4 linked regions of the Homo sapiens genome follow. The protein of the gene in region 1 purifies or fractionates together with the protein of each later gene. This does not show direct contact. Each region holds a gene or a part of one and is shown in the gene's direction. Other genes may lie near its edges.

Region 1 (3,700 bases):
CTGCTGTAATCACTGCTCTTGTGTCCATTATTAAAGTTATTTTCAGACCCCCTGAAATTGTCCCTCGTTACATAGCAAACGAGATAGATGGTGTGGTTTATCTGAAAGAACTGGAACCCGTTAACACTCCCATTGCGTTTTTCACCATAAGAGATCCAGAAGGTAAATACAAGGTTAACTGCTACCTGGATGGTGAAGGGCCGTTTAGGTTATCACCTTACAAACCATACAATAATGAATATTTACTAGAGACCACAAAACCTATGGACTATGAGCTACAGCAGTTCTATGAAGTAGCTGTGGTGGCTTGGAACTCTGAGGGATTTCATGTCAAAAGGGTCATTAAAGTGCAACTTTTAGATGACAATGATAATGCTCCAATTTTCCTTCAACCCTTAATAGAACTAACCATCGAAGAGAACAACTCACCCAATGCCTTTTTGACTAAGCTGTATGCTACAGATGCCGACAGCGAGGAGAGAGGCCAAGTTTCATATTTTCTGGGACCTGATGCTCCATCATATTTTTCCTTAGACAGTGTCACAGGAATTCTGACAGTTTCTACTCAGCTGGACCGAGAAGAGAAAGAAAAGTACAGATACACTGTCAGAGCTGTTGACTGTGGGAAGCCACCCAGAGAATCAGTAGCCACTGTGGCCCTCACAGTGTTGGATAAAAATGACAACAGTCCTCGGTTTATCAACAAGGACTTCAGCTTTTTTGTGCCTGAAAACTTTCCAGGCTATGGTGAGATTGGAGTAATTAGTGTAACAGATGCTGACGCTGGACGAAATGGATGGGTCGCCCTCTCTGTGGTGAACCAGAGTGATATTTTTGTCATAGATACAGGAAAGGGTATGCTGAGGGCTAAAGTCTCTTTGGACAGAGAGCAGCAAAGCTCCTATACTTTGTGGGTTGAAGCTGTTGATGGGGGTGAGCCTGCCCTCTCCTCTACAGCAAAAATCACAATTCTCCTTCTAGATATCAATGACAACCCTCCTCTTGTTTTGTTTCCTCAGTCTAATATGTCTTATCTGTTAGTACTGCCTTCTACTCTGCCAGGCTCCCCGGTTACAGAAGTCTATGCTGTCGACAAAGACACAGGCATGAATGCTGTCATAGCTTACAGCATCATAGGGAGAAGAGGTCCTAGGCCTGAGTCCTTCAGGATTGACCCTAAAACTGGCAACATTACTTTGGAAGAGGCATTGCTGCAGACAGATTATGGGCTCCATCGCTTACTGGTGAAAGTGAGTGATCATGGTTATCCCGAGCCTCTCCACTCCACAGTCATGGTGAACCTATTTGTCAATGACACTGTCAGTAATGAGAGTTACATTGAGAGTCTTTTAAGAAAAGAACCAGAGATTAATATAGAGGAGAAAGAACCACAAATCTCAATAGAACCGACTCATAGGAAGGTAGAATCTGTGTCTTGTATGCCCACCTTAGTAGCTCTGTCTGTAATAAGCTTGGGTTCCATCACACTGGTCACAGGGATGGGCATATACATCTGTTTAAGGAAAGGGGAAAAGCATCCCAGGGAAGATGAAAATTTGGAAGTACAGATTCCACTGAAAGGAAAAATTGACTTGCATATGCGAGAGAGAAAGCCAATGGATATTTCTAATATTTGATATTTCATGGTGGAATAACACAGAGAAATGTTTTAACTGACTTTGGATCTTCATCACCTAAAAAAGAGTGTGTTGATGGCAGTTCCAATGAAGGACAACTAATTTATAACTTGTTCTATATTGTAAATAGCTGTTTACAGGTTTTTAAATTTAAATTCAGAGGTTATAAAATGTGTACAGCATTTTTAAGTGAAAATTAGTACTAACAGCTATAGGACTTGTATTTAAAAAAAAAAAAAAAGCTTGGACATGGTTTGCAGCTTTCATACACCAAGCAGATGATTGATAAAACCTGGGAGTAAGGTAAGAAAAATGGAACAAATTTTTATCTAAAAATTCCTGTCACCACAAGAGGGCATCAGCTGCTCCTTTGCAGGAAACTGGGGTATTGTACTTGGCAGTTGTACATGAAATTAATGAAAGAGTATATTTTAAATATATTGTTTTTAACATTAAACAAATATGAAATTAAAGTAAATTAAATTTCACCCTATTTAAACATATGATAAAAAAAGAAATGCACTTGTAAACAGAATGTTTATTACCTCATAAGTGCATATATAGTGTGAAAGAGAAGGCATTAAAAAGAAGTGCAATTCCTTTTTAGCAAGGATAAAATCATTGCCTTGTGTTACAGATTCAGCCTGCTGAAGAGTATTCCACTTTCTGTGTACTCGAATTGCTTTCTGTTTGCTTTACCACTGCACTTGTTATTATTACAAGGGAAATAGATTTATACATACATATATATATTCTTCATTACAGGAAATGTAACTAGATATTGTGCCCAAGAAAAACAGCCAGAAGCAAAGAAATGCTTCAATCTTTAGTTGCTTCATAGGCATTCATGACATTTTAGTGCTTTCACAACTTGTTGGTCGTACTTTATACTTGGGTTATATATTAGACTTTTATAGGCTTGAAATCATCCATCACATAAGAAAATAGAAATCATATTAAAAGTGAATTCTTCTAGAGGCTTGTGTACACTACTGGTTGTTTTAGTTGGGCCTTTTATATGAAAGTTATACTGTACTTATCTTTTTGTTGTTGTTTAGGTTTGTTGACTACCATTTCTGGCTTCCTTTCTTTGGTTTTGGATTAAATCCAACAGTTTATTTGTAAGCCCTGCAGCAGATTTCTTTGATAATTTAGCTTTTACTGAATCTCTTGCAATGAAGAAAGCTATTTCATCAGTGATTTATCACTTTCAATTCATTGTGTGAGCTGGAAATATTATTTTATATGAGAGCTATAGCAAAATAATCTGTATAAACAAGGAATGTGTTAGCTTAAACTGGATCATTTTACTTTTTGGCATCATGCATCTGTACTGTACCAAAAGTGTTTATATGTCTGCAAATTAAAGGTATATATTTTCATAATTTCTTTCTCACTTTTAGCATTTTATATTTGAACATGGGCTTGTTATTTCACTGAAGTGCCTGTCATTTGTTTGTTTTTAGGGTTAAATGTGGGTAACCTGTAGTATTCTGCTATACTAAAGTTTATATTAAATGAATTCATTACTCAATTAAACATTGGGTAAATTATTAAATGTGTGTGTAGTTATAGACATATATATAGTAGAAAGAGAGTATGCCTAAATGTTTGATGTAAGTTCATATGAAAATTTGCACCCATGTATGTGCACATGCATATTAATTTATTATAGATTTAATATCATTATAAATTTTCATTTTACTACAGATTTATAACAAATCCTCTGTTAGCTGTGTTGCAATAGCTTGCAATAATTTTTAAAACAAAAATACTCTACAAAAAAGACATTGAATGCAAACAACCAAGTTCTTTTAGATTTGTATTAATTAACTCATTTATCTTATTTTTCTTCAATTTGAGAATTTCAATAAATAAAATAATAAGTATATGAGGCAGCAATGTTTGTTACAAAAAGTAAATATATTTTTATTGGAAATTCCTTTTGTACGAGAGGCATCTGAGCTAAGAGACTAAGATCATTTAACCCCCAAAACTTTTCATTTATAACTGATATGTAGCAATGGAGGAAACATCTCTTACTAGTCATATTTTATTTCTTA
Region 2 (6,872 bases), on another chromosome or scaffold:
ATGTGTTCTCATTGTTCAATTCCCACCTATGAGTGAGAATATGCGGTGTTTGGTTTTTTGTTCTTGTGATAGTTTAGTGAGAATGATTTCCAATTTCATCCATGTCCCTACAAAGGACATGAACTCATCATTTTTTATGGCTGCATAGTATTCCATGGTGTATATGTGCCACATTTTCTTAATCCAGTCTATCATTGTTGGACATTTGGGTTGGTTCCAAGTCTTTGCTATTGTGAATAGTGCCGCAATAAACATACGTGTGCATGTGTCTTTATAGCAGCATGATTTATAGTCCTTTGGGTATATACCCAGTAATGGGATGGCTGGGTCAAATGGTATTTCTAGTTCTAGATCCCTGAGGAATCGCCACACTGACTTCCACAAGGTTTGAACTAGTTTACAGTCCCACCAACAGTGTAAAAGTGTTCCTATTTCTCCACATCCTCTCCAGCACCTGTTGTTTCCTGACTTTTTAATGATTGCCATTCTAACTGGTGTGAGATGATATCTCATTGTGGTTTTGATTTGCATTTCTCTGATGGCCAGTGATGGTGAGCATTTTTTCATGTGTTTTTTGGCTGCATAAATGTCTTCTTTTGAGAAGTATCTGTTCATGTCCTTTGCCCACTTTTTGATGGGGTTGTTTGTTTTGTTCTTGTAAATTTGTTTGAGTTCATTGTAGATTCTGGATATTAGCCCTTTGTCAGATGAGTAGGTTGCGAAAATTTTCTCCCATTTTGTAGGTTGCCTGTTCACTCCGATGATAGTTTCTTTTGCTGTGCAGAAGCTCTTTAGTTTAATTAGATCCCATTTGTCAATTTTGGCTTTTGTTGCCATTGCTTTTGGTGTTTTAGACATGAAGTCCTTGCCCATGCCTATGTCCTGAATGGTAATTCCTAGGTTTTCTTCTAGGGTTTTTATGGTTTATGTCTAACATTTAAGTCTTTAATCTATCTTGAATTAATTTTTGTATAAGGTGTTAGGAAGGGATCCAGTTTCAGCTTTCTACATATGGCTAGCCAGTTTTCCCAGCACCATTTATTAAATAGGGAATCCTTTCCCCACTGGTTGTTTTTCTCAGGTTTGTCAAAGATCAGATAGTTGTAGATATGTGGCGTTATTTCTGAGGGCTCTGTTCTGTTCCATTGATCTATATCTCTGTTTTGGTACTAGTACTAAAGTAGATTCTTTTACTAAAAAGGCAGAAGGCCTTGCTTTTAGACAGCTTGGCTAAGGATTCTTGAATGGCTCAAAAGTGGCAAAATAAAAGATAACTCAAATAATTCAGACACTCTTAAAGCCATTCTTCTGTGTCTGGATCGTGGTGTGATGAATATAACATAACTTTCAGGCAAATGGGTCGTGAGGTGGTGATTGGGCCAAATGGATTTAGGTCAGTCCTGGAAAGAACAGAGCCTGAGTCCCCTGTCTACCCAGGAGCTCCTGAGGCTACCTCCTCCTCCTTCAGCGAGTTTGGGTTTAGGGCAGGGGTGTGGCTTTGCCGAATATGGACCTGAGTTCAAATATTTGCTCCACCACTCATTAGCTTTGCTAGTGCTGTGACCTGAGGCAGGTCGCTTGGCCTCCTTGGGCCTCCTCAGTTTCTTCCTTTGAAAAATGAGGATGATAATGTGCACCTTGTAGGACTATTGCGAAGCTTAAGTGAGATAAGTGCCTGACAAGTAGTAGGTGCTCAATAAATGGGACTGTCATTAGGTAACATAAGCATCACTTGGGGAAGCTACTCTGCCTGTGCTGTCAAGTAAGAGATTCCCTTCCATGCTGCCCCCTCCACGCATTTCAAAGCTGAATAGCTCAGATTTGGGGCAGGCAGCTATTTTGGATATAAGATTAGTTTGAGAAGACTTCCTGGAGGAGGGGAGTTTGAGGTCAAGTAAGGAAAATGGGAGAGATGGCAGTCTCAGCAGGGTTGAGCTGAGTGGCTTAGACCCCTGTCTGTCCTTATCCCTAGGACTGCGCCCGGGGCACGGCCAACTGTGTGGTGTTCAGCTGCCCACTCTACAGCTTTGACCGCGCGGCTGTGCTGCATGTCTGGGGCCGTCTCTGGAACAGCACCTTTCTGGAGGTGAGGATACCACTCGGCTCTAGTCTGTGTTTCTTCTTCCTCCAAAGCCCCTCCAGGACTCATTTCTCCTCCTCCTTCCTCACTGTCCAAATGCAGCATCCCCCCCCTTTTTTTTTTTTTTGAGACGGAGTCTTCCTTTGTCCCCCAGGCTGGAGTGCAGTGGTGCGATCTCAGCTCACTGCAACCTCTGCCTCCCAGGTTCAAGAGGTTCTCCTGCCTCAGCCTCCTGAGTAGCTGAGATTACAGGCACGTGCCACCACACCCGATATTTTTGTATTTTTCATAGAGACGGGGTTTTGCCATGTTGGCCAGGCTGATCTCAAACTCCTGACCTCAGGTGATCCACCCTCCTTGGCCTCCCAAAGTGCTGGGATTACAGGTGTGAGCCACTGTGCCCAGCCCAAACGCAGCATACTCTTAACCCAAACCAGGCAGAAACATCCTCTGTGTTGGGCACCATTACATTTATAATTTCAGGAGGTAAGGGGAAGGGAGGGAGACATGGGGCATTTAGGAGAAGGGTCTCCTTCCCTGTTCCCTTAGGAGTACTCAGCTGTGAAGTCCCTGGAAGTGATTGTCCGGGCCAACATCACAGTGAAGTCCTCCATAAAGAACTTGATGCTCCGAGATGCCTCCACAGTGGTGAGCTGCAGGGTTGGGGGATAGGTGGGGAGGACTCTCTTCTTTCCTGCTCCCTCCAGTTCTTGTTCCATTGACCTCTTGCTCCATTGACCCCTTGCTCCCCAGATCCCAGTGATGGTATACTTGGACCCCATGGCTGTGGTGGCAGAAGGAGTGCCCTGGTGGGTCATCCTCCTGGCTGTACTGGCTGGGCTGCTGGTGCTAGCACTGCTGGTGCTGCTCCTGTGGAAGGTGAGGCTTGGAGGTGGGGCTGATGGGGGTGGACTTCCTGGTTGGGTGAGCAGCATTTTGTATTGTGGTTCTGTCACCCACCCACACACTCATGTATTCAGCAAATCTGCACTGAACACTTGCCCTGCATGTCTCAGGAACTCTATTAGTCCCTGGATGTTTCAAAGATAAATCAGATGCAGGCTGGGTGCAGTGGCTCATGCCTGGAATCTCAGCACTTTGGGAGGCCTAGGCAGGTGGATCACTTGAGGTCAGGAGTTCGAGACCAGCCTGGACAACATGGTGAAACCCCATCTCTACTTAAAATACAAAATTAGCTGGGCGTGGTGGCACGCACCTGTAGATCCAGCTACTTGGGAGGCTGAGGCAGGAGAATCGATTGAACTCGAAAGGTGGGGTTGCAGTGAGCCGAGATGGCGCCATTGCACTCCAGCCTGGGTGACAGAGCGAGACTCCATCTCAAAAAAAAAAAAAAAAAAAAAAGCCGGGCATGGTGGCTCATGCCTGTAATCCCAGCACTTTGGGAGGCTGAGGTGAGTGGATCACCTGAGGTCAGGAGTTCAAGACCAAGCTGGCCAACATGGTGAAATCCTGTCTCTGTTAAAAATACAAACAAATAAAAAAAATTAGCTGGGCATGGTGGGGGGTGCCTGTAATCCCAGCTACTTGGGAGGCTGAGACAGGAGAATCGCTTGAACCCGGGAGGTGGAGGTTGCAGTGAGCCAAGATTGCGCCACTGCACTGCAACCTGGGGGACTGAGCAGGACTCTGTCTCAAAAAAAAAAAAAAAAAAAAAAAAAAGAAATCAGATGCAGATCTCGTTCTCAGGGATTTTATAGTCCAGTGGGATGGGAGTGGTGAGCCTGTAGTCAAGGACAAGGCAGGAAGTGTTGAGTTGAGAAAATGGAGTGGGAGTTTAGAGGGAAAAAAGCTTGAGAGGAGGTAGCACTGGAACCAGTCCTCAGAGGAAGGTGGGGTAGTAGGGTGAGGATGTAAGGGGATGAGGTAGGTGGGGTCCAGCAGGACCATGGTAGGCAAAGTCGTGGAGGCAGAGAAGTGTGATCTGACTTAACTAGAATGTGGCAGTGAAAACTGGAAAGGTAAATGTGGCCAAGAAGGCCAACAAGCACGGAGAACGGCCTCCAGGGGACTGCCCTCATGGCGGAACTCAGAGCTTCCACATACCAGGCTCTGCATGGAAGCATTCTTGTACACCCAGAGCTGTATACCGAATCATACTGGTATCCAGGGCTCAATGTAAAAGTATGCACATGCACACGTCAGTACACGGAATCACATACATCACCGGGGTCATATGCTGAGCCATCTGCCACATCGGGGGCTATGTTCAGAACCACACATGTCCTTGGGGCTCTGGAGAACTGCCCCTGCCTGTGCCTGCTCTTTGGGACCAATCAGAGACTGAGCCACCCTTTGGCAAGTGTGAATCATCAGTAGACCAGGCTCTGGAGTGGCATCCAAGCTGTTGGGAACCTTCCCAGTCTTAGGGGAGATTGATGCCTCTGTGAAACTGGTCCCAGGATGCTTGCTCCCTGCTCCCATGGAAGGAAGACAGAGCAGAGATAGGGGATCCTGTCCTTCCTCAATCTTTCCATCCTCTGCTTCCTCTGCCCTGCTTCTCCCTCGACATCCTAGTGTGGCTTCTTCCATCGGAGCAGCCAGAGCTCATCTTTTCCCACCAACTATCACCGGGCCTGTCTGGCTGTGCAGCCTTCAGCCATGGAAGTTGGGGGTCCAGGGACTGTGGGGTAACTGTTGTGTGTGTGCATGTGTCTAGTGTGTGTGGGTATGTATGTGTGTGAATATAAGGAGAATTCCCAGCATTCAGGGGATCAGGAATGTTCAGGGTGAAAAATGAGATTGCATGAGAGTGATGTGAGGTGAGAGGTAATTAGAAGGGTGCAGATATAAGGGTAAGTCTACACAGCCTGAGGCGTGCACAAAGGGTTGGTGGGCTCATGGGGTGTGAGCATGTGGGAGTGTGGGGAGGTCGCATGCATGCTTTTTTCTATGGGCATGAGTGTGCAAGGAGATGAATGTGTAAGGAGATGCCATGCAGTCTGAGCATGTAGGAGTCCTGGGCCTCTGAGTGTGAGTGTGCAGGGGCACATTCCCACCCTGGTGTGTAAGGGCCAGCATGGTCCTCATTTAGGGTGGGGCTAGACTACTGTATTGATGGACAAGAGGGTATTGCTGTAAGGGGCGTGCCGCCCAAGGTACAAGTACACGGGGTGCATGTTTATGAGGCTTGAGAGGTATCATTCCAGAGATGCAGGGGACTAGGAAGCCATTTTCTTCCTCAGGTCTTGTTTGTGTTCTGGGGGACACTATTGGGTCTCTTAAGAAGCTAGAGGGGGTACAAATCTTGAGTCCGGTCCTGATGCTCCACCCTCAAGGCCCTCTTTCAGGGGCCAAGGGAGATACCCTTGGTCCTGCCTCTTGGACGCCCTTCTGGTCTCTCTCTTGCTGTGAATGAGAACCTGGGGACACAGCACTGATGGGAGCACCGTGGGTGCTGCCCACCACACCAGATGCTATTCAGCCTATTTCCTTTCTGCCGCAGCAGGGATGGTGAGGGTGAGGAGCTGTGCCGCGCTAGGCATCTGCTCCAGGGACCGCAGCTCTTCAGGCTCCTCATGGTCTGGCCTGGTGTCCTTATAGATGGGATTCTTCAAACGGGCGAAGCACCCCGAGGCCACCGTGCCCCAGTACCATGCGGTGAAGATTCCTCGGGAAGACCGACAGCAGTTCAAGGAGGAGAAGACGGGCACCATCCTGAGGAACAACTGGGGCAGCCCCCGGCGGGAGGGCCCGGATGCACACCCCATCCTGGCTGCTGACGGGCATCCCGAGCTGGGCCCCGATGGGCATCCAGGGCCAGGCACCGCCTAGGTTCCCATGTCCCAGCCTGGCCTGTGGCTGCCCTCCATCCCTTCCCCAGAGATGGCTCCTTGGGATGAAGAGGGTAGAGTGGGCTGCTGGTGTCGCATCAAGATTTGGCAGGATCGGCTTCCTCAGGGGCACAGACCTCTCCCACCCACAAGAACTCCTCCCACCCAACTTCCCCTTAGAGTGCTGTGAGATGAGAGTGGGTAAATCAGGGACAGGGCCATGGGGTAGGGTGAGAAGGGCAGGGGTGTCCTGATGCAAAGGTGGGGAGAAGGGATCCTAATCCCTTCCTCTCCCATTCACCCTGTGTAACAGGACCCCAAGGACCTGCCTCCCCGGAAGTGCCTTAACCTAGAGGGTCGGGGAGGAGGTTGTGTCACTGACTCAGGCTGCTCCTTCTCTAGTTTCCCCTCTCATCTGACCTTAGTTTGCTGCCATCAGTCTAGTGGTTTCGTGGTTTCGTCTATTTATTAAAAAATATTTGAGAACAAAACCTCTGCCTCTTTGAGTCTTGCTCTGGCATCCCCAGCATCTCTGATTCTCCCTGGTGCCCCCAGCTCAGGAAGAAGGTGGTAGTGGGGAGAGAGGGTCAGGGGGGCTTGGCAGGGATGCAGGCACCATGACTTTTGTGACCAGTTCCTAGAGACGCATGGGTGTAGCCTCAGGAGGAAAGCGAGAGGAGCTTTACCATGGGAACGAAGGAAAGGGACAACATTGGGAGGCAAACGTTGGGAGACTAGTCCAGAAACTTGCAGTTGAGGATACAACAGGGTCCTAGTGTTTCCTCCCTGGGTCAGCGTAGAAGTAGAGCTTTTTCACTGTCGAAGGCGGGATTGAAGTTAGAGATTGCCCTGGCAGAGGTTGGGGAGAGAGGGACTAGTAGGTGGTACATGAATGTCTTCTCTCATTCTGCTAGGTCCCTCTCAGTGGAAGATAGATAGGCTGGTGGGTGGCTTGTTCTAATTGGAGGCTGGGGAAGGAGCAAATGAGTGCCTTGGAGCTT
Region 3 (7,035 bases), on another chromosome or scaffold:
CTGAGATTGGGTGACTTGCTCCTGGTCTCATCACACCCGGTTTAGAGGTGAGGCTGGGCCTAGAACCTGGTCTCTCCCCCACTGAGCGAGTTCCTTTTCTGAGCTGCAGCAAGTACTTTTCTCCCCAGGCATTAAGGGGAAGACACAGAAGAGCTGGGGGAACTGGAGGGGGTTGAGTTCTGAGATGGGGTGCTCCAGAAAACCATTGCACCTGTATGGGCCTGGGCAGAATGGCTCCGCCTCCGCCCAGCTGCTGGTAAAAGAGGATCCTGGCTAGGCGGCTTCCCTGTTGGCCTGTCAGCCAAGGTCTTTACACATCCTGCTCCCTGGGATGCTCACTGTCTCTGCTCTATGCTCCTGACCCCTCCCTTCAGGCTCCTGTGTCTTCTCAGGACACCCCCTGCTCCCCTTCCCTGTGGGCCTTTCCTTCCTAGATGCCCAGGCCCTGCTCCTTGTCCTCCAGGGCCATGCCCACTGGCTCTGCCAGCAGCCATAGGCAGGCCCCACTCCTTCCCCGCTGCATCTTCCTGCCCAGAACTTGCCAGACTTGACTTCTCTCTGCTGCTGCTAGGGGTGGGGGGAAGGGGAGGGACGGGCTTGGGGGAGGGGAGAGAAGTCTTTGTCCAGGAGGATGGTGGGGGGGGTTGGGAGGGGGGGGGTTAGAGCAGGCGAACAACAGTTTCCATGGAAACAAGAGCCAGTCACTAGGCACAGGAGCTGAGAACCTATCTCTAGAATCTGGGAATGGGGAGGGAGAGAAGGGTGGATTTTCCCATCTGATGTTGGAGTTTTCAGCTCCTCTGTTGAATTCTTGTCTGCTCTCAGGGCTCAGTTTCCCACTCTCAGCATGTCCCAGGTGCACAGAGGTCCTTAGTCTGGACCGCAGGGCTCAAGGTGGGAGTCCTCTGCCCCATTCCTGGGGGCTCCCCAGCTTCTCTCTCATACTCTTCCATAACCCAGACAAATCTAAGTGGAAGCCTGGTCCCATCCCCAGGGAGGGAAACTGATCTCAGTGCCTGAGAGGGACAAAAGCACCAGTGGGAAGGAGGGAGGAGGGAGGCTCCCAGCCCTCCCGCTGTCCTGCAGGCCCATCTGCTTGTGCACATTTACCCTCTTGGGGGCCAGGACACCCCCAGGTGTGCTTGGTAGTGTGACATCGAAGGCTCCCGGGATCCGGGCCTTACAACCAAGTGTCCCAGCAGGCCTGTGCTTATGAAACCCAAATGGGGTAGGGAAGGTGCTGGGGACTCCGAGGAACTTGCAGGGGAGCAGTGCGTGGAGCTGTGGCGAGAGCGGCTCAGTGAGCCAAACAGGGTGCCCATGAAGGGCTGGGGACCATAGGTCTCAGAGAAGATGGCACACGAGAGGAAGTGGGGATGCCTGGGAGGTTTGGGGAGTATTACGAGGGTCACGGGAGGCCATGGGAGCTATCACTGGGTTGTGGGGGGTCTCAGTTCCCCTCCTGTCCTCAGGTACTTGGTACTCACCTGCCTTTCCTCTTGTCCAGGTGAGCACTGTGAGGTGAGTGCTCGCTCAGGCCGTTGCACCCCGGGTGTCTGCAAGAATGGGGGCACCTGTGTCAACCTGCTGGTGGGCGGTTTCAAGTGCGATTGCCCATCTGGAGACTTCGAGAAGCCCTACTGCCAGGTGACCACGCGCAGCTTCCCCGCCCACTCCTTCATCACCTTTCGCGGCCTGCGCCAGCGTTTCCACTTCACCCTGGCCCTCTCGTGAGTGGCTGGGCACTGGGGGTGGGGAGTGGGCCTGGTGGGCATCTGAGGTGCCTCCTGTTCTGTGGTTGAAGTAAGAGGTCAGGCAGTGAAAGCGTGGAGCAGGCTGCCGGCAGAGCCAGGTCTGCTCTTGGAGTTGCCTGTGGTTCTGCCAGCAGATCTCCCTCCCCTGCGCTGGTTAGGTGGCGGGGGTGCTGGCATCCAGGTGGGTACCCCATTCCCTGCCCCCATCCCCAACTCCTGTTCAGGTTTGCCACAAAGGAGCGCGACGGGTTGCTGTTGTACAATGGGCGTTTCAATGAGAAGCATGACTTTGTGGCCCTCGAGGTGATCCAGGAGCAGGTCCAGCTCACCTTCTCTGCAGGTGATCACAGTTGCCCCCCATCCTTGCCCATCTTCCAAAGGCCCCAAGTCTTCCAGCCCCTGACCCCAAGCCACATACTCTATCAGCCAAATCTGGGCCCAGCCCCAGCCACTGGCACCCCAAACCCTGCCATTCCTAGCCCTCGTCAGGCATTCCAGCTCACCTGGTCCTTTCCCCAGGGGAGTCAACCACCACGGTGTCCCCATTCGTGCCCGGAGGAGTCAGTGATGGCCAGTGGCATACGGTGCAGCTGAAATACTACAATAAGGTGGGTGTGGAGGGCACAGAGGGTTGGGGGTTCTGTTCTTGCCTCAGGTGCTTACCCAGCCCTGAGTGGCATTGCCTCCAGGCTTGGGTGGGCTGGTCAGGGCATTTCTGGCTGAGAGGAAGGGAGCGGCTGGGAAGGTGCCACCTTGCTGGGCATTCCCACCCCACTGGGCACTGCTCGATGCTCTCTGTTCCACTAGGCAGCCGCAAACTTGGACACTGAGGAAGGTAGTTACATGCATAAACCACGTGAGCACACGTGTGTGTATATGCATGTGTGTACGTGTGTCTGGGCATGTGGGTGCACACAGAGGCACCCAGTGTGTGCTGGCCATGAACCTAGTGGGCTCTGTACTCAGTGTCCCCCTTCTCTGCTCTTTCCTGTCCACAGCCACTGTTGGGTCAGACAGGGCTCCCACAGGGCCCATCAGAGCAGAAGGTGGCTGTGGTGACCGTGGATGGCTGTGACACAGGAGTGGCCTTGCGCTTCGGATCTGTCCTGGGCAACTACTCCTGTGCTGCCCAGGGCACCCAGGGTGGCAGCAAGAAGTGAGCAGGGGAAAGGGCCAGGGATGGGGTGAAGTGAGGGCAGGGCCAGGCAGGGAGGGAAGGTGGAGAGGGTGGGCTTTTGGGGTCTCTCTCCCTTTGCCTCTCTTAGCCCCTGCTCAGCCCTGGGGATGGGGTCAAGACTGGGGAATCAGAGCAAGGCCCTGTGGGGCAGTCTGGGGAGGGGGCTGAGTGTTCGACAAGAACAGTTCCAGGTAGGGGTGACGCCCTTCCTGAGCACTGCTCTGCAGGGCCTCTTGGACACCTGCCTACGCCGTTCGTGTCTCTGGCCTGGCGGCAGAGCGAGCGGAGGACCAGAAGCTCCCAGCCCTCCCTTGTGCCGCCACCATCTTTGCTCCCCCAGGTCTCTGGATCTGACGGGGCCCCTGCTACTAGGCGGGGTGCCTGACCTGCCCGAGAGCTTCCCAGTCCGAATGCGGCAGTTCGTGGGCTGCATGCGGAACCTGCAGGTGGACAGCCGGCACATAGACATGGCTGACTTCATTGCCAACAATGGCACCGTGCCTGGTATGGGGGCCCGGGGTGGAGCCAGGCTGGGATCCCAGTGCTGAGAGGAGGGGCTGTGCCTGGTGTGAGGATGCCAGAATGGAGGGTCTCAGAGGCCTCTCTAACTGCTGCCACAGGCTTTCTCTTTAGAGCCCCAGCTCAGGTCCACTGAGCTGCCTTCTCTCCATTCCAGGCTGCCCTGCCAAGAAGAACGTGTGTGACAGCAACACTTGCCACAATGGGGGCACTTGCGTGAACCAGTGGGACGCGTTCAGCTGCGAGTGCCCCCTGGGCTTTGGGGGCAAGAGCTGCGCCCAGGGTAGGAGGGGCGGCTGTTAGAGGCCACAGCCTGGGTGCCATCAACAGTCTGGGAACTGGCAGGGTTGGGGCAGGCACTGGGCAGGGCTCTGCTGAGCGGGGCTGTGGGTGGAAAAGCGTGTCTGGGCAGAGCCCTGAAAGGGCAACACAGGAGACAAAGGGGCCAGTCAGAGGCAGGCCTGGGCACAGCGTGGGGCGGTCCCAGGGCAGGTACGCACTTTGGAGGGCGGGGCTGATGAGGGGAGTGGGCTCTGCCTCCCGTGCAGCCGCCACCGCTGAGCATCACAGCCCCAGGGCCCTCTGAGGCTCCACCCGTCACAGTCTGCCTTTTCCTGCCTCCCCAGAAATGGCCAATCCACAGCACTTCCTGGGCAGCAGCCTGGTGGCCTGGCATGGCCTCTCGCTGCCCATCTCCCAACCCTGGTACCTCAGCCTCATGTTCCGCACGCGCCAGGCCGACGGTGTCCTGCTGCAGGCCATCACCAGGGGGCGCAGCACCATCACCCTACAGGTGATGCATGGAAGGGCGGCTGGCCCTGGCCTGGCCATAGGGCCCTGGTAGCCTCTAGGCGGCTGGACAGAAGTGGCTGGGCAGGTCCTGGGCAGGGGTGGGGACATATAGAGGCCGCTGGATCCGTTGGGAAGGTCAATGCTGCCACCTGTTGGGCCTGAGGGAAATAAATACGCTTTCCTCTCTATGGCCTCAGCTGGGCAGCGGGATGGGTTTGATGGTCCAGAAAGGGGAACTGTGAGCTGGAGAACAGTGATTAAGGCCGTCTGCTGACCCTGTTTTCTTTCCTCCTGGTGTCAGCTACGAGAGGGCCACGTGATGCTGAGCGTGGAGGGCACAGGGCTTCAGGCCTCCTCTCTCCGTCTGGAGCCAGGCCGGGCCAATGACGGTGACTGGCACCATGCACAGCTGGCACTGGGAGCCAGCGGGGGGCCCGGCCATGCCATTCTGTCCTTCGATTATGGGCAGCAGAGAGCAGAGGGCAACCTGGGCCCCCGGCTGCATGGTCTGCACCTGAGCAACATAACAGTGGGCGGAATACCTGGGCCAGCCGGCGGTGTGGCCCGTGGCTTTCGGGGCTGTTTGCAGGTGAGTGTCCTGCCCTGCCCTCCCATCCCCTCCCCCACCACCTGCAGCCCCGCTCCACTGAGGGCAACACTGCTCCTGTCCCTCCCAGGGTGTGCGGGTGAGCGATACGCCGGAGGGGGTTAACAGCCTGGATCCCAGCCATGGGGAGAGCATCAACGTGGAGCAAGGCTGTAGCCTGCCTGACCCTTGTGACTCAAACCCGTGTCCTGCTAACAGCTATTGCAGCAACGACTGGGACAGCTATTCCTGCAGCTGTGATCCAGGTATGCTAAGGATCCAGGGCAACGGGCAGGTTATCAGGTGCCTGGGGCCACATGCTGGCTCTGCTGTGTGACCTGGGGCATGGGGCATCACACCACCTCTCTGAGTCTTAGTTGCCTACACAACAAAGCCATAGCCAGCTGATAGGATGCTATGTGGAAAGAAACAGATGAAGGGTTTGATGGAAGATGGTGCCAGGGGAGGGTGGGGGAATGAGCCTCTCTGGTCCTTCTGGTCCCAGGTTACTATGGTGACAACTGTACTAATGTGTGTGACCTGAACCCGTGTGAGCACCAGTCTGTGTGTACCCGCAAGCCCAGTGCCCCCCATGGCTATACCTGCGAGTGTCCCCCAAATTACCTTGGGCCATACTGTGAGACCAGGTAAGCAGACCAGGGCATGTGGCAGCAGGTCCCAGTGGCTGCTGCTTCTCTCTGGTGTGTCCCTCAGAGCCCCGAAAGCCTGGCTGATCCACAGCCAGGGTCAGAAGGGCCACATAGGGCTCACCTAGGTTAGGTGGGAGTGGCAGGGGGAGCTCATGCCTACCTGGGTCCCTCTCTGCAGGATTGACCAGCCTTGTCCCCGTGGCTGGTGGGGACATCCCACATGTGGCCCATGCAACTGTGATGTCAGCAAAGGCTTTGACCCAGACTGCAACAAGACAAGCGGCGAGTGCCACTGCAAGGTGACAGCCCCAAGCAAGCCTCCACTGTGGCCACTTGGGCCTCTGTCCACATCTCCTGGGCCCTAGAGGGCAGGCTGTAGGGATGGGTCTTCCTGTAGAGCTGAGGGCCTTGTGCCTTTGCTCTCACAGGCAGGGCAGTTGGCTGCTTACCTTCGTGTGTCTGAGGCGCAGGGGGACCCTGGGCCAATGTGTAACCCATGAGCTCTGGCCTGGTGTGGTGGTGGTTTGCAGCCTGTTCTGATTCTGTGACATCTCGCTGATGGGCTCAACTCCAAAGCATTGCTAGTGTTAATTATTTTGAATACTGCTCCTGAGGGGACCTGAGGTCGGGACCCTCTCCACAGGGGCCACAGCTGAGAAGGACCCATGAGCATCCTGGGAAGAGAGCCTGGCCAGTGACACCGTTCTTCCCTCCTTTCTCAGGAGAACCACTACCGGCCCCCAGGCAGCCCCACCTGCCTCTTGTGTGACTGCTACCCCACAGGCTCCTTGTCCAGAGTCTGTGACCCTGAGGATGGCCAGTGTCCATGCAAGCCAGGTGTCATCGGGCGTCAGTGTGACCGCTGTGACAACCCTTTTGCTGAGGTCACCACCAATGGCTGTGAAGGTGGGGCTCCTGGGATGGGTGGGCAGCCCTCCTTACAGTGTGCTAGGCACCTGCACCCCAGGAAAGCCAGGAAGGGGCTGGTTGCAGGCCTGGGGAGGCCTGGGGAGGCCTAGGGAGGGCTGGGGAGCCTGGGCAGGACAGCAGAGGGAGAGCTGCTCCTGGGTGACCATGTGCTCTTCCCCGCAGTGAATTATGACAGCTGCCCACGAGCGATTGAGGCTGGGATCTGGTGGCCCCGTACCCGCTTCGGGCTGCCTGCTGCTGCTCCCTGTCCCAAAGGCTCCTTTGGTAGGTGTTGGAGGCCCCGATGTGATGTCGAGGACATGGCCTCTGCTGTTAGTGGGATGAGGGCAGGAAGCTCCTGGCTGAAGATCCGGGGACCCCACTTTCTGGCCTCCAGGTCCTGGGATTTCATTTCCCATCTTCCTTGGTTCACATTCCCCCTTCCCCATGTTGCCCAGGTGTGCCTACATCTTGGACTGTTTTGTTTTGTTTTGGTTTGGTTTTTTTTCTGGGACAGAGTCTGTCACTGTCACCCAGGCTGGTGTGCAGTGGCGTGATCTCCGCTCGCTGCAACCTCTGCCTCCCAGGTTCAAGCAATTTTCCTGCCTAAGCCTCTGGCCGCCACCACACCTGGCTAATTTTTTTTTT
Region 4 (7,035 bases), on another chromosome or scaffold:
TTTATTATATCCAGACATAAAGGTGTTATCCCATTTTCTGGACATTTTAAATAATTTTTAAACCCTGTCCTTTCTGTTAATGTATTTCTTACCAGTAGGAATTTGGATACAAAGGTCTAAAAATCAGATTTGATACTACTACCACATTAACCTTTATATGATTCGGTTCATTATTCTCACCACAGCTACTTCTAAGGTTATTTCTGTTTAATAAGATTTTTAATTAGCCTGGTAAAAGTATACTTTTTTTGAGACAGGGTTGCCCAGGCTGGAGTGCAGTGGGATGCTAAAGGCTCACTGCAGCCTCAAACTCTTGGGCTCAGCCTCCTGAGTAGCTGAGACTACAGGCATGCACCACCACACCCAGCTAATTTTTGTATTTTTAGAGATGGGAGTTTGCCATGTTGGCCAGGCTGGTTCCAAACTCCTGACCTCAAGTGATCCACTTGCCTTGGCCTCCCAAAGTGCTGGGATTACAGGCATGAGCCACCACTCTGGGCCAAAAATGTAGATTTTGAGGGAAATTATCAGCTAAATAGTGTCAAATACGGACTATCCTTGGGACTTCTAAGCAGGAGAACTGAATGTGTAAAAACAATACTACAAGTACTTTATTGTTTTCTCTGCACTCACATAAAAATGTTGCAAGTGGGTATATAGGAGTGTCTATAGACCAAGAATTTTTGTTAATATACTAGTGCTCAAATTCAGAAAATAATTGTGGTCCATGGAATTGCCAGTACTTAAATTATTAAGGAAGCTGAGAAGAGTCTAATCCTCAAATTAAGCTAGGTCATATATTATCTGGGCTGTTCGGCCTCTGGGGTAAAAAAAAAAAAAAAAAATGGTGATCCTTACGGCAGCAATTGTGATGTCATTTTCAAGATTATGCTGTAAAATAACTCCCTCAGTAGCAATTAACACCTCAGAGTTCATTCATTTTATAAGTCCAAGGACAGCCCCTCTATTCCCTCAGTTACTTTAACTGCCCATCTTCAACTGTTACATTTTTCTCAATACATAGAAACCAGACTTGTATGCAGCATCACAGGGGCTTACTTCCTGTGCTTTTCTACAAAAGAAGAACAGAGTTAGTTTTCAGTGTTATTTTCAATACTCTTTCTGAAGATGCTCAGTATTGTGGGACATTTTAGATATAGCCATGTGTGGAATTAAAGGGTTCAGGGATTCCCCTATAATAACTCATGTGTGTCATCCTGGAATTTTAGTTTTCTTACTTTTCCTCATACTGTGCTTTCCTAATCTTACACTTCACCCTTATTGAAGTTTATCACTTTTCTGCCTGTTTACACGTTTGTTTGCACCTTGTATAATTTATATTTGTTTGCTTGACATCTACCTAGAATGATACCATCTCATTGGAGATTACTTCTTCTAAAAGAATATTTATTTCTCCACCTTCAATATGCATCAGAATAGAGCTCAACAATTGTAGATGCCTGGGCCCCACAGCCAGAGACTGGTGATGGGGAGCGGGCAGGCAGGCATTGCTGATTTTCTAAAAGTGAGTTAGGTGATTCCAGTGTGCAACCAGGATAGAAAGCCCCTAATTTAGGTAATTTATAAATGTACTCCTTAACATTGGTTGGGCCTGATCTTTCACTGAGTATTTCACTGTTAACACTTTGCTTCCCAATTCAGATCCATAAATTCTTAACCTGTTATCTTCTGAATTCCCAATTTATGGTGAAACTTAATTTTCCCAATTCCTCGCCAGCTCAGTATTTCTAACACTTGGTGTAATGTTTTGTTTGAGACATTTTTAAAACCTATTAATCATTGGCTCCTACTCATCCACAAACTTATGCTGCCACCGCCACTAACAACTCAATTATCTTTATGTCTACAAATACCCTGGCCCATCATAGTAAACACTTTAAATTCTTTGTTAAAGTGTTGTTGAAGATCATAGGTGTTCAATATATCTTTGTTGTTGACCCAGATGAAATCAGTCATGATTTATAGAAGTGATCCTATCCTTTATCATCAAATACAATTGGCCGTGGTTTGCTGACTCCTGTGTTAGCTATCCGTATTCTTAACATCTAATCCTTTTATCTCCCTGTATTTTAGTTGCTGCAGCAAACGAGATTGCTAAGGAAAGGAGGAAGCAAGATGTGGTTAATCGTGTTGCAACCCATTCCTCAAATATAAGATCGACATTTAAACCAGGTATAATTTCTCTGATGCTTTGATAGATGTCAAAGTGTCATATCTTTAAAATTTGATATCCTATTAATATCTAACTATATTCTTTTTTTTTTAGTAATCGATGGATCCATGCTTAAAAATGACATAAAACAAAGATTAGCAAGAGAGCGCAGAGAGGAGAAAAGGAGACAGCAAGACGGTATATTTTAGACCTTTTTTCAAAAATCAAAATGAATTGTGTTATATATTGCAAAGTGTTTTTAACTTATTCCTCCTAATTTGTTTATATGATAGAGTATAATTTTTATATTATGTATTATTTTGGATTAAATCCTTTTACTAAATCAGGCAAGAAGGCCCATGAAAATTCTTTGATTAAATTGTTTAATTTTTGAAGGAGTAGTTTATCTTAGCTTTGATTTTCTGAAAACTAAGGTCTGGAAATTTCTTCAATATTTGTAAAAACAATCAGAATGGGATTTCAGTAAAAGTGATTCTTTTTTTTTTGTTTTGTTTTGAGGCGGAGTCTTACTCTGTCACCCAAGCTGGAGTTCAGTGGCGCGATCTCAGCTCACTGCAGCCTCCGCCTCCCGGGTTCATGCCATTCTCCTGCCTCAGCCTCCCGAGTAACTGGGACTACAGTCACCCGCCACCACACCCGGCTAATTTTTTGTATTTTTGGTAGAGACGGGGTTTCATCGTGTTAGCCCGGGTGGTCTTGATCTCCTGACCTCGTGATCCACCCACCTCGGCCTTCCAAAGTGCTGGGATTACAGGCGTGAGCCACCGCGCCTGGCCAGTAAAAGTTATTCTAAAAATGAAAATAAATTGCCAATAATCCTAACATAGATAAGATGAAAAGCATGTTACCAAGTTGTAAAAAGATTATCCTTTTAGATCCTAATTTATACAGAGTCACACTTCAGAAGCATTTAGTGAGGGAAAATTTGAATATAGGAAAAATTTTGCTCTCCTGTAATATGGTATATGGTTAAGTCCATTAATGTAAAACTGGCATGTTTAATATGGTCTGTATAGATGAGGACTTTGAAAGAAGTTTCCTAGTAGAAGGGAACAAAACATGTATCCTGGCCATGCAGTTTTTAATAATTAGTATTTTAATGTACAGCATATTAATATGGTAGGGTTTGACTTTAGCTCAAATCAGCAGAAATATCACATGAAAGAAAATATTTTTTCTTAATTTGGAATTGTAGTTTGGACAGGATGAGAGTCATTTGGCACAGACAATCCAGTTCTCCAGAGTTAAATGAATACTCAGTGAAAATGGTTCTGCAGTGGCTACCTCTGTTCACTTTTATAATAAATCTTTAGTTACTAGCACAGGTTGTGTTATTTTAAGAAAGTGAATGAGATGTGTTAACTTTTTCCTTCTGTGTGTGTAATGTGGAAAACCTAAATATTTTCTTGGCTCTTACACCTTGAAAATGTATTTGGAATATTTCAGCCAATAAAGAAACACAACTACTTGAAAAAGAAAGAAAGACCAAGCTCCAATATGAAAAACAGATGGAGGAAAGACAGAGAAAGCTGAAGGAGCGAAAAGAGAAAGAAGAACAACGGAGAATAGCTGCAGAAGAAAAAAGACACCAGAAGGATGAAGCACAAAAGGTACATAATTTTGCAGCCTGTGCATGAGAGGATAAACTGTGTTGCCTGAGTCTAGAATATTGTTTTCTCAGGCCTTCTCTGCCTTACTTGCCCTGTAGAAAGGGAACCAATCCCAGCTCTTTCTTCTTCGCTTCCTCTTCCCCTCAGCATTATATAGGCTTTTACCCATGTCCTGATAAGATGCCAGGAGCTGAGACCCACTAGCCTAGGGAATGGGGAGACTTCCAAATCCAGGAACAAAGCCCCATCCACCTTCAGGACTTGGCACATGAGGTACCTGTGGCCTGGGGTTTGTTCTGAGTGGCTCTGTTTACTACCAAAAAGTATTCACTGTTGTCTCATTGCCTACAGAATAGGGGCAGACCCCACTGTCTGACCCTCCCTGACGTGCCCTCATCTGACCGATTTCTCACAACTCCTTTAAAAGTGTGACTCCCCAGCCAAATCAGGGCATTCGCTCTCCTTTTCAGCTTCCCTGGCTCCCTCTGGTGCACACTCACACTCTCTCCCTCTCTACCCTCTGTCTCCGTGTTCCTCACATTCCCTTTCCTGACAGGGCCCCTCTGGATGTGTGGTTCAGAGTCAGCATTCTTGCTCTTGTTTTGTGGCACTGCTCCTCTCTTTTCCTTTCTGGATTCTCTTTTGGTGTCTTTGGCACTCTGTTGGGATGAGTCTGTGGCTTTGTTATGCCCTCTCTTTTTCACTTCTGTCTTTCTTCAGTTTGTCTTTTGTGGTACTGGGCATCTGGCTACCTGTCTCATTCCGTATGATTCTCTCTGACACCAAATTTTTCTCTTGTAGGTCATTTCACTACTTGACTTGGAGTATGCTTCACTCCTTCTGAATCTAGCGTGGTCGCTGTGACACTGTCCTCTATCTTCCTGGCATTCTCTCTTTCTCTTTATTCCAGGGATTTTTTTTTTTTCTTTGAGACAGAGTCTCACTCTGTCGCCCAGGCTGGAGTATAGTGGCGTGATCTTGGCTCACTGCAACTTCTGCCCCCCCGGTTCAAGCAATTCTCCTACCTCAGCCTCCCAAGTAGCTGGGATTGCAGGCGCCTACCGCCACGCCTGGCTAATTTTTGTGTTTTTAGTAGAGATGGGGGTTCACTATCTTGGCCAGGCTGGTCTTGAACTCCTGACCTCGTGATCCACCCTCCTTGGCCTCCCAAAGTGCTGGGATTACAGGCGTGAGCCACTGTGCCCAGCCTATTATAGGGATTCTTAAGTGTCCCTAAATAAGCCTTAGTCTGTCTTTTGGTCTCTGACTCTGGCCTTTTTCTGCCTGAGGCAGCTTGATTTTCTTTATTCTGTCTTTGTCTTAGCTTCTGTCTGTTTTTCCCCATCTTTATATCCTCTGCCTGCCATTCTCTCAGTGTGTTGTATTTTTATTTCCCTCTCTTATTTTCTGTCACTCTAATATTTGCATTTCTTTTTCTCTCCTTTTCTCTTTGGTTCCATTTCTCCCATGAAGCTTCCTCTTGTCTTTCTCTGCGGTGCTCAGTTTCCTCCCTCCTCATCCATACCTTTGCTCTTGTACGTGCTTCCTCTCCAGCCCTGCACCCTATCTGGAGAGCTTCCTGATTCTAGGACACTTCTTGTGCCACTTTTTCCCCATCCATGGTGTACTATATCTCTCCCTTTCTGAACCCTTTTCTGTGGTTGTTTATGCTCTGTTTCATGCTCTAGTATTTGGTAGACTCTCATTCAGAATTTCTGTCACTTTCCATCATCTTCTTGAAACATCTCTCTTATTTTACTTTTCTGTGGTAAAGAGATGAAGGCCAGAGAAAGAGAGAGAATGAACTAAGTAATGATAAACGAAGAAAGAACCAAGAACTAAGTAAAGAACCAAAGAAAGTGAAATACAAACTGTGTGTAGAGTGAGTGGGAGTCCATGGAGGAGAGAGACAAGTCACAGGGACTGAGACCAAAAAATAAAGACTATCTTAGAGAAAGAGGAAGCTGCCAGAGAGAACACAGAGAATAGAAGAGAATGCAGCAAAATGACACTGCAGACAGAAAGGGAGCCACAGACATGGCAGGAGAAGGGGCAAAAGAAAACCCCAGATAGCTAGTGCGGGAGAGTCCCAGACAGAACAGGGGACATGGGACACTGTAAGTAGGCTACATATAGCAAAAGAGAGGAATTCTGGAGAGCAGAAAAAAAAAACCCAGACTCAGTGGTGCTGAGGAGGGATGAGTGTGGACAGGAGGTGTATATGAAATGGGATAGGAACTTCTATGTGAGCCCTGGGTGGCCACGATGTGAGAAGGGACCTGGAAGAGAGCACAGTAGGTAATGCATTTGGAAACAGTGGAATAGAATCAGAAATAGTTTAATAATACAAAGTTAATCTTTGTTTTTAGTCTATTATAGTTTCAGGGTTTCTAAGTAATTCAGAACAACTGCCTTTCTGTTAGAAAATATAATTTTCAAATGTTGCCCATTGTATCAACTTTATTTTAAGAATTGCGGTTGCTTTTCTTCTCAGAAGATATGGCTCATCTCCATTTTCCTAGTACGTTTATCTTTGCCATTGGTAGAAACAGTAGAGGCTTTGTAAGGATGGTGTTTGCTATGAAACGGTTGTTGTTAGGGAAAAATAGAAGATCTCTGGTCCTAAAAGTTGATTTGCTTACCTGAGTTCATGGTATGGCACAGTACAAGGATGAGAAATATTTGAGAGAAGAGCTCATTTCTGGAAGTGGAGTTGTTTTGCTGCAGCATGGTATTTACTTTGTATAGCTGTTGTCTTGACCAGCTAAAGTTGAGGTCAAGACAAATATATTGATTATCTTTTTTGAAACTTTATTTTTATTAGTTAACACCAGAATTTTAGCTGTTACAGATGTGAGTATACTAGATGATTCTGGTATAAATTTAACTTATATGTGTGCTGATTTTTCCCCTGCCTCATTCTACAAAGAATTTAAGGTGACTTAAAAATACATACCACACCAGATGATAAAAATAAATGGTTGGGGGAATCAAGCAGAGGGGAAAACTAACATAGGCAAATAAAACATAAGGTATGATTAGCATGCACAAAAGTATACCAATCAGTCTTTGTACAGTTGCTAGAAAGAGGCTACACATTTGGCTCTAAATTTCCTAATGATACAAACAAAGAGGAAAGCATGGTCATTTTCTTAATGCAAGGTCCATAAGATAAAAAAAAATGAGTTATTTAGGAGAAGCACTGGTATTGATTGATAGCTGAGACATATC

What was found.
Region 2: the proteins of PCDH20 (region 1) and ITGA7 purify together in Homo sapiens (affinity purification with mass spectrometry; 2 studies listed by BioGRID and IntAct, with this or other methods). This does not show direct contact.
Region 3: the proteins of PCDH20 (region 1) and CELSR2 purify together in Homo sapiens (co-immunoprecipitation; 3 studies listed by BioGRID and IntAct, with this or other methods). This does not show direct contact.
Region 4: the proteins of PCDH20 (region 1) and MAP7D3 purify together in Homo sapiens (co-immunoprecipitation; 3 studies listed by BioGRID and IntAct, with this or other methods). This does not show direct contact.

What each region holds. Positions count from the first base shown.
Region 1 is NC_000013.11:61,409,180-61,412,879, reverse strand, and holds the end of PCDH20 (protocadherin-20 precursor), read left to right. Parts: coding exon 1-1,637; 3' UTR 1,638-3,195; downstream 3,196-3,700. UniProt on the Homo sapiens protein: Potential calcium-dependent cell-adhesion protein.
Region 2 is NC_000012.12:55,684,058-55,690,929, reverse strand, and holds the end of ITGA7 (integrin alpha-7 isoform 2 precursor), read left to right. Parts: intron 1-1,972; coding exon 1,973-2,086; intron 2,087-2,629; coding exon 2,630-2,728; intron 2,729-2,833; coding exon 2,834-2,959; intron 2,960-4,615; coding exon of another isoform or gene 4,616-4,728; intron 4,729-5,641; coding exon 5,642-5,872; 3' UTR 5,873-6,362; downstream 6,363-6,872. UniProt on the Homo sapiens protein: Integrin alpha-7/beta-1 is the primary laminin receptor on skeletal myoblasts and adult myofibers.
Region 3 is NC_000001.11:109,259,535-109,266,569, forward strand, and holds part of CELSR2 (cadherin EGF LAG seven-pass G-type receptor 2 precursor), read left to right. Parts: intron 1-1,507; coding exon 1,508-1,730; intron 1,731-1,978; coding exon 1,979-2,094; intron 2,095-2,273; coding exon 2,274-2,362; intron 2,363-2,752; coding exon 2,753-2,910; intron 2,911-3,271; coding exon 3,272-3,435; intron 3,436-3,607; coding exon 3,608-3,733; intron 3,734-4,076; coding exon 4,077-4,243; intron 4,244-4,543; coding exon 4,544-4,831; intron 4,832-4,919; coding exon 4,920-5,094; intron 5,095-5,333; coding exon 5,334-5,475; intron 5,476-5,656; coding exon 5,657-5,777; intron 5,778-6,200; coding exon 6,201-6,384; intron 6,385-6,570; coding exon 6,571-6,672; intron 6,673-7,035. UniProt on the Homo sapiens protein: Receptor that may have an important role in cell/cell signaling during nervous system formation.
Region 4 is NC_000023.11:136,241,401-136,248,435, reverse strand, and holds part of MAP7D3 (MAP7 domain-containing protein 3), read left to right. Parts: intron 1-2,094; coding exon 2,095-2,193; intron 2,194-2,287; coding exon 2,288-2,371; intron 2,372-3,640; coding exon 3,641-3,804; intron 3,805-7,035. UniProt on the Homo sapiens protein: Promotes the assembly and stability of microtubules.